Regions from separate parts of the Homo sapiens genome. Here regions 1 and 2 are each linked to region 3. Evidence: fine-mapped QTL for protein levels in blood plasma. A gene starts in region 3. Each other region holds a variant in brackets. All regions are shown on one strand. Distances are from middle to middle.

Region 1 (2,761 bases), 38 kb before region 3:
GATTCTCCATGTGGTTGCACTGGGAGCAAATGTAACAATAAAACTCTCAAACTGGAAGTATTACTAATAGGCACCAGGCACCTCAACAGATTCTAGACGTGATCCTCTAAGAAGACCAGCTTCAACTAAGAGAAATACATAAACACTCAAAGACAACTGAAAGCAAGCAGAGGCTTTCGATCCACTCATGAATGTGTATTATCACTTAAAGGTTCTTCTTTCTAGCCCAGTATTGACTTTTCCTGAGACATTTCTAGGCTGGCTATCACCATTGTATCTTCCACTTCAAAAGGTCAAATGCCTACAAAATGCCAGTTACCGCCTGCAGGTTTCAGCTGGTTTGCCCTGCTGTCTGGCCAGCTCTTTAAATCTAGGATAGGTTCCATAACCCAGTACTTCTGCATGGTTAGCCAGACCTGGGCAATGTCTCAGTCAGCCGTAAACATCCAACTGGTAGCCTGATCCTCTCTCCCAAGTCCGGCGTTTCCAATGGACGTCCTTTTTTCCCAAGCAGAATGTTGAGGGCGAGCTGGGAAAGGGGTCATCACGTTCAGAAAGTAAAAGGGGGTCATGACCTTCAGAAAGCAAAGTGGGGGATCATAACCTTCAAAAAATAAATGGGACTAATTCGGCTCGGCAGTCTTTGGAAACGCAAGTAGCTCACTTTCCCCATAAGCGAGTCTCAAGGGGCGGTTTGCTGGGTGAGATGGAGGAGTGAGGTTCCAAAGCTGCTCTTTCCTACCCGCTAGGAAGGGGGCGCCAGGCAGCCCCTGACCTCACTTGGAAGAGGAGAGAAAGAGAGTCGAAGACGCCCTGTCAAGATGCCACTCACCTAAACGCCAGGAACATCTCCCCGACTAAGGACAGGCCGACCCCCAGCAGGACCAGCGCCACGAGCTTCCCCATGGTCTCGGGGTGCCCAGCGGCGACTGCGCGGCGCCGAGAGCTCTCGGGGGCGCGGCGGGCGGTTCCTGCCTCGCGTACGGATTGGGGCCCGCTCGGCCCCGCCCGCACACGCCTCCTACTTACCTGAGCGGCCCGGGTGCCGCAGCAGGGCGCTGACGAGTCCCGCCGAGCCCCGCCGCCCGGGTTCAAGGCCGCCTTCACGCCCACGATTCCTTGTTTTTTGGGCAGAGGTCAAGGCTCAACGGAGAGGGAGCCCGGGACCGAGTTGTGGTGGGAGTTTGCTCCTAACACCCGCGAAATCCTACCTCAATTCCTCAGATGGCCTGAGGGAGAAACCGGAGGGCCCGGGAATGGCGGGGAGCTCCAGTTCAGAGCCGGAACTCCGGACTTCTGCAAGGCCAGACGTGAGGCGACACTGAATTGCTCCCGAGACGCGGGAAGGGCGAAGGCAATCGAAGCGAAGAGCTTTAACTCATCTTCTCCAGGATTTGGGGCACGGGAACCTGTCTCCTGACCTTCGTGCCTTACCTCGGAGTGTGCTGCCCAGACGGACTTGTGAATAGCTGCGTCTGTCCCCATAGTTAACGGGAGAAGGAAACACCAGGAGAAAAGAAGGAAAAGACAGGAAACGGGAAGAGGAGCAGAGGCGAGGAAGGGGAAGGTC[A/G]TTTCCTTGGCAGGGTAGGCCCTCTTTCTTCTAGGTCTTGAGTTCCTGCCAGGCAAGAAATGCTCTTTCCCCTCTCCTGATGAACACCAGGTTGGAGGGGGAGGAACTGAAGATGCGGGAAGACTTGGGGAGTTCGGGCAAAGTAGCACATTCAAGCATGATCTATTTTTATTTACGGACAGAAAGAAATATTAGTTCTGTTAGGTTCCACCGAGTAAACTATTTGTTGAGAGAGCAAGATTTGCCAATCCTGGGGGTATTAAGGAAAGAAAAGGTGGTCCCTGACCTATGGGATACATGATTCTAGTATGAATACGTAATTACAGGATGAATAATGAAGCCCACCGCTTATGCAGTACTGACTGTGTGCTTTGCCTGTGCTGACACCTATGTTAACGCATTTAATTATCAACACAATCTCTGGAGTGTGGGTAGCCTTACCCCAATTTTACAGGTGAGACCTGCAGCACAGATTGCTTATGTGGCTTGCTGTAGGTCAGGCAGCTGTCAAGCAGCAGACTCCAAAATCTGGGCCCTTAACTGAGCTGCCTCTACCATGCTGCCTCTAGAAAATCTATGGAAGAAGGGTTGTATTAAAAGGACAGTGTAACGTCTTGAATTGTATAGATTAGAGTTCTTGTTAAGATGACTAATGTTAAAAGAGTGCAAGCAGAGGAGGAATCGAAGTCAGGAGGGCTCACAGAGCTGAGGGGCCTGGGGTGTGATGTAGACATGCATGCAGGGTTTGGGAGTCAGGCTGCCTGGGTTTGGATCCAGCCTAGATAAAGTACTCAGCTTTATTGAGCTACAGATTCCTCTTCTGTAAAAGAACGTCCACCTCATAGGTAGCTTAAAATTAAATGTGATAATGAGTGTCAAGTGCTCTGCACTGTGCTTGATACGTTTTATGAAGTCAGTAAAGATTAACCACTAATTAATTCTGAACTTTGCTTGAGATTGTAGGCTCCTGTGGGAAGGACTCCATCGCATTGATCACTGGGTTTTCCCGTGCCATCCATAGAACTTTGTGCTTAATAATGACTCAATAAATATGATTAGATGGATGGATGTAAAATATGGACTTGGGAGAAAGAAAAATTAGAAGAATAAAAAATAAATGGAATGAATAATGAAATAATAATAGTCATATTATTATTTCACTCAGCGTTTGCATGCCTTGTCACATTACTT
Region 2 (2,761 bases), 23 kb before region 3:
GGAAGGTAGGTCTCATTTTTCTGAAAGAGCACCATAATGCTTGGATGGTATTTATGCTCCTATTTTTTTTTATCAAGTGCATTTTTGGAAGGAATGATTGGAAGTTACATGCTTATGCCCTAGATAGGCATAGATAGGCCCTAGATAGGCAATATTTTTAATTTCATTAGAAATGAAATTTCATTAGAAATTAAAAATATTCATCAAGTTTAAACTAAAAGAAGCAGTAGGCTAATACACACTGAACTGGGGGTGGGGGTACACATGATTCTCTCTTAGCCACATTTTCAACCAGCTTTATGTTCTTGAAGTGTAATGACTCACTCTCAACTTGAGTGGCTCTAATTCTGTGGGATTACTAGCATGCAACCATCACTAACCCTATGAAAGCGATTGGTATAAAGTCCCATGCAAAGCATACAAACCCAATAAAAAACAGGCCATTCTTCCTTGGCAAGACACTCATCTGGGTGATGAGTCATCTAAGATGGAGGGTGACAGCAGGAAAAAATGTTAGGGTTTGCCTTCTACCCTCAAGATGGGCCTGAAGAGTATCACCCTGTAGTCGGGCACTTCATCATTTCTCAAAGGAGTCCGCATAGAACAGTGAATAGTATGAGTGACATCAACTTTCATATGCCATGCTTGCCCTGGTTTATAAGGAAACTATACACACACATTTATAAATAAGGAAATATAAGCTCTTTAGCTCTTACATATTAGCTAATATATACATTAGCGCTTATAAAAGATGACAGGACAACCCACCATAGGGATTGTTTGCAAATGCTGGGGATAAATTAGAGAAGGAACAAAATGAGGAAGTACCTTGGAAGAAGCTCATGTTTGACTGTTTTCAGATGCAACAGAGAATTTTCTGCTTCTTCAAATTTAAAAATTTCCACTGTATTCTTGAATTCTGGGTGGTTTACAACAAAGAGATAAACTGTGTCATCTAAAGAATTGAAAGAACAGAGTTAATTTACAAGACATAACTACGGGACCTCTGGGCAGGCACTGACATTTAAATACCACAGGCAAGGAAAGGTTGAATGTATAAGCTGTTAGACGACCTAACAGATCATTCTCTGTCTTTCCTATTGCTGTCCGTCTGGTGTTATTTCTGATCATTGGCTCCCTGACCTTTAAGAAAGTGTTTCCTACTCCATATACAGAATTCATGCATAATCTGTTTCTACTTTAATTCAAAAATACAGTTCTTTTTTAAATGTGATGATCGTAGGTATATGAAAAGATTATGAAATCTAAACATTCTTTCAGGTGTTACCTGTTAGGAATTTCAAAATGTAGCATAACTTACTGCCAGCTGAAGAGGCAAATGAACAAGTTCTTTGTAATGAAGAATACAGAAATCACTCATGAGTTAATTGTTCTTCTCTTCCTAGAAATATGATCCAAATCTATTTTTCACAGTCATTTGTGAACCATCACACGTTACTAAATGTTGGTAGCCCATTGGCTCTTACCGTTGTCTATGAAAGTGCTGATGCCATGTGGATTGAATGAGGCCAAATCAAACCCACGACTGATTCTTAATTCCCGTGCC[CT/C]TGGTTTTTCTTCTTTTAGATCCATCATTAGTATTCCTCCAGGCTTATCTGGTGCAAAGCTGTGGAGTCCTGGGAATTTTAGACCCTTTCCAAAACGGTGAAAAATGTTAAATACAAAAGCTTAAGTATTTTTATGGACTAACATGGGAACTGTACATGAAGGATAAATAGAGATTGTGGTTAAAGTAGTGGCATAAAGCCACAAAAACTCAAAAAACAGAGAAAAGATAACAGAAAAAATAATAACGGGGAGGTGGAATACTGAAAGCCTGAAAATAACTGAAAAGAAGATCAGGGATTTATTCTCTTCAGAGAGTAATCAGAAGGTTGGTGGACTAGGTGATTCCAGGGAGAGCTGAGGGTGGAGAAAAGTGACATCTACATACTGACTGTGGAAATTTGTTCACTGCTAGATCCCAGTGCCTGGAACAGTGCCTGGCATACAGTCCATCCTTCTCCCACTGATTCAAAATATCACCTTTATCATGTGCTAGATCTCTGACATTTACATATTGGTCTATTTAGGGACTCTCTGTTTTGTTATTTTAATGTCTCATGTCTATTCCTGTGCCAATATAACACTTTTTAAATTACTACAGCTTTAGGTCAGGCCTGGTGGCTCATGCCTATAATTCCAGCACTTTGGGAGGCTGACGTGGGAGGACTGCTTGAGGCCAGCAGTTTGAGACCAGCCTGGGCAACATAGCAAGACTCTGTCTCTACAAAAAAAAAAAAAAAAAAAAAAAAAAAAATTAGCTGAGTGTTATGGTGAGCACTTGTAGTCCTAGCTGCTCGGAAGGCTGAGGTGGAAGGACCTCTTGAGCGCAGGAGTTTAGGAGTTCAGGCTGCAGTGAGCTATGATTGCACTACTGCACATCAGCCTGGGCAATTGAGCCAGTCCCTGCTTCTCTAATGACAGTTTTGTCTTTTTCTTTTCTATCTCACATTTCTTTTTCTCGTTTTACTGAATTACTAAGAACTCTAGTAGATTACTGATGGTTGTGGTGTTGGGTATTTTCTTCCTGTTCTGAGCATTAATGCAAATGCAGCCAATGCTTCACCATCAAGAATGATGTTTGCTGTAGTTTTGTGGGAATTTTCCTTATCTTTCTAGTTTGCTTGGAACTTTAGGAATGAGTATTGAATTTTATTAAATGCTTTTTGGTACTCACTGAGATGATATAGGTCTTTTC
Region 3 (2,761 bases):
TGGGCCCCTTCATGCTCATATGTGTTGCACCCACCCTTCAAGGTCAGGTCGAATGTCTCTTCCTCCCTCTAGAACTCCACCCTCAGGGGATGGAATCTTTCCTCTTTAAGCCTATGCGGTTCATTTGTGTCTGTCCTTAGAACATCCTAATTTATACATTTACTGTATTTTAATTCTCTCTTCCCCTGTATCAAACTCCATAAGGGTCGTACTCTACTATAGAAGCCTAAGAGAGAACATTACACATAGCAGGTGCTCAGTCTTTCTGGAACTCTTTTGCATGAGGCCTATAAAATTTTGGTTGAGGCAGGGCAGAACAGCTCACACCTGTAATCCCAGCACTGTGGGGAGGCCTAGGCTGGAGGATTGCTTGAGTGCAAGAGTTAGGGAACAGCCTGGGCAATACAGCAAGACCCCATCTCTACAAAAAATAAAATAAACAAAAAACAAACGTTGAGTTGGTAATTTATAAACGATGATGTCTACCTACCAGAGATTTTCATTAAAACTAAAATGCGAGATGGAATAGTGTCTGCGCTGTCTGGCATTCTGGCTTCAGGCTTCCCTGGTGAATAAATAGGAAGTAAGAACAGTAGCTGAATATTTCAAGTGTCTTTGATCTACAGCTGAAGAGTTTCTCAAACTATGCAGAAATGGGTGGAGAACAACTTTATTAAAGACGGGTCTGGTTTGGGCAACAAGGAGAAACAGCACCAATGACCTGAAATAAATCTTCATAGTTAAGGTTTCAATGCATGAGTAGTCATTTTGTTTTCAATTTAAACCACTAGTTTGGCCCTTGGGTAATTGCAAAGCATTCTCTTGTCAGCCTAAGCAGAAGAGAACTTTGTTAGCAGCAAGGGCTTATAAACTTTCAAGAAAGTGTCGCGATTCACTCCAAACTTTGCTAGTTTTTTCACTAGAAGCGGAGAGTCGGGGTGATGGGGGTTCAACTAGCTGGGGGAGGGACAGCATTCAAAAATTCTCCACCCCCGGCCGCAGGGCCAGGTCCCGCAGGAATCCCTCCCCCAGCCTGCGCCCTCCCCGCACCACGCGGCCACCCCGAGCCTGGGGACCGCCGAGGAGGGGCGCGCGGGAGTCCCACCTACCTGAGTGCCAGAAGCCTCTCGCCCAGGAGCGCCAGCGCGATCCCCAGCAAGCCCACAGCCACCAGCCGCCCCATGGCGCGGGAGCCGGGCGCGCTGCCTCGCTCCGGCCTGGCCAGCAGCTCCGTGGGCGGTGCCATCTTCCCGGCTCGATGGTGCCGGCCGCGCTCCGCCCCGTCCTCCGCCTAGGCCGAGTCCCTGCGTCGGGGCCGCGGAGGCTCCGCCCTGGGCCTGGCCCTGGTCTTTGTCCTCACAAACCTATTTCCCCAGATACCTTCGGGACGGCCCGGACACGCCTTACATTAGGCTCATGATGTGAAACTTTGAATTCCTTCACTTCCTTTTTCAAACAACCCACCCGAAACCCTCTAGCAGCCCGCATACCTTTCTCGTTTCCCTAGTCTTCAAACACATTTCTCACTCGCTATTCCAGTGAGAAACTTACATAGAAAGCAGCTTTTGGGGATGGGGGTCGGTGGCCAAGGGAGGGAAAGTAACGGGATGCGTCGTGTAAATATTTCACGTTGGAATCACTACTTTTTATAACAGGACGTAGTTGCGAATAAATAAACATCCTGTGCCTCGTAATACTTTTTTTTTTTTTTTTTAACAGGGTCTCGCTGTGTTGCCTAGGCTGGAGTACATTGGCACAATCATAGCTCACTGCAGTCTGGACCTCCCGGACTCAAGGGACCCTCCAGCCTCAGCCTCCTGAGTAGCTGGGACCGCAGGCACGTACCGTTACACCTAGCTAAGTGTGTGTAAGTTGTGTGTGTGTCTGTGTGTGTGTGTGTGGAGACCGAGTCTTGCTGTGTTGCCCAGGTTGGTCTCAAACTCCTGGACTCAAGCCATCCTCCTGCCTCAGCCTCCCAAAGTGCTAGAATTACAGGAATGAGCCACCATGCCCAGCCTCTATTAATACTTCCAGACTACAGACTTAAGGACTTAGACACGTCTTTTTCATCCAAACTCAAAGGGAAGAAGTGTAGTTTTTTTCTTTTCCGTTTTTACTCTAACAACCGTAACATGAAGGAATAATTTAAAATACAATTTTAAAAGTAAAATGAAATTTACCCATCAAGATTGATACCATTACAATAAATGAGTACATCTGAAATAAGCTTCTAATGGTTTTCGGTATTTAATTGCCACCCTACAATATGTAGGCAGAAATGGTCACACTTGACAATTTTCAACAAATATCAGTTTTATAAAGAACCAGTAAATAAAAGTGGATGCCAATTTCCCACCTGCCTCTCACCAAAAAAAAAAAAAAAAAAAAAAAGCACAAACACCTCTCTCCCTGTGTGTGTGTGTATCTCTGCTTCAGTCCTAAGGATATTGGATTATACTGGATGGTAGAAAGAGAAGTAAAAAGTTGTCCTTTGAAAGCCCATGAGGCATTACCTTTTTTGTGTCGTGGACCCTTCTGGCAGTGGTGAGCCTGTGGATAACTTCTTAGAATAATGTTTATAAATGCTTACAATAAAATGCATAAATTTTCTCTGTGCGGTTCATGAAAAAAAGAAAGAAGAAAAAAAAATTTTAAATAAATGAATAAAATGTATAGATTGCAAAGAAAATCAATTACATTGTAAGGAAAAAAAATAGCTGAGAGCAGTCTGAGCTTTGTGAGGTATGCAAAATTTATCAGG

Which allele goes with the higher level. Alleles are on the strand shown, and positions count from the first base shown. The strength of an association depends on the size of the effect and on how common the allele is.
For the plasma level of the protein whose gene starts at base 1,260 in region 3, allele G in region 1 goes with a lower level than allele A (moderate association).
In carriers of allele CT in region 2, the plasma level of the protein whose gene starts at base 1,260 in region 3 tends to be higher than with C alone (moderate association).

What was found. PIP is the chance, under the fine-mapping model, that this variant and not a neighbour inherited with it causes the effect. The UK Biobank Pharma Proteomics Project read protein levels with antibody pairs (Olink). The fine-mapping took linkage between variants from a reference panel, not from the people measured, so its PIPs are less certain.
Region 1: its variant is fine-mapped to the plasma level of the PON2 protein (UK Biobank, PIP 0.98).
Region 2: its variant is fine-mapped to the plasma level of the PON2 protein (UK Biobank, PIP above 0.99). The variant lies in the coding sequence of PON2. If it changes the protein, the assay may bind it differently, which can mimic a change of level.

The regions. Positions count from the first base shown.
Region 1 is chr7:95,395,445-95,398,205 of GRCh38, forward strand. It overlaps PON3 (paraoxonase 3), which reads right to left and starts at 931. Exons shown (of 9, transcript NM_000940.3): 1 at 833-931. The coding sequence starts at 906. It overlaps LOC107986822 (a long non-coding RNA gene), which reads left to right and starts at 1,028. Exons shown (of 2, transcript XR_007060439.1): 1 at 1,028-1,584. The variant A/G (reference allele first, on the strand shown) is at 1,571.
Region 2 is chr7:95,410,825-95,413,585 of GRCh38, forward strand. PON2 (paraoxonase 2) reads right to left here. Exons shown (of 9, transcript NM_000305.3): 4 at 1,488-1,653; 5 at 829-955. The region is part of intron 1 of LOC107986822 (a long non-coding RNA gene); the gene reads left to right. Among named protein-coding and RNA genes, the nearest start is that of PON3, 16 kb to the left of the region's middle. The variant CT/C (reference allele first, on the strand shown) is at 1,568.
Region 3 is chr7:95,433,769-95,436,529 of GRCh38, forward strand. It overlaps PON2 (paraoxonase 2), which reads right to left and starts at 1,260. Exons shown (of 9, transcript NM_000305.3): 1 at 1,110-1,260. The coding sequence starts at 1,183. RefSeq lists a silencer at 943-1,372 and an enhancer at 1,047-1,617.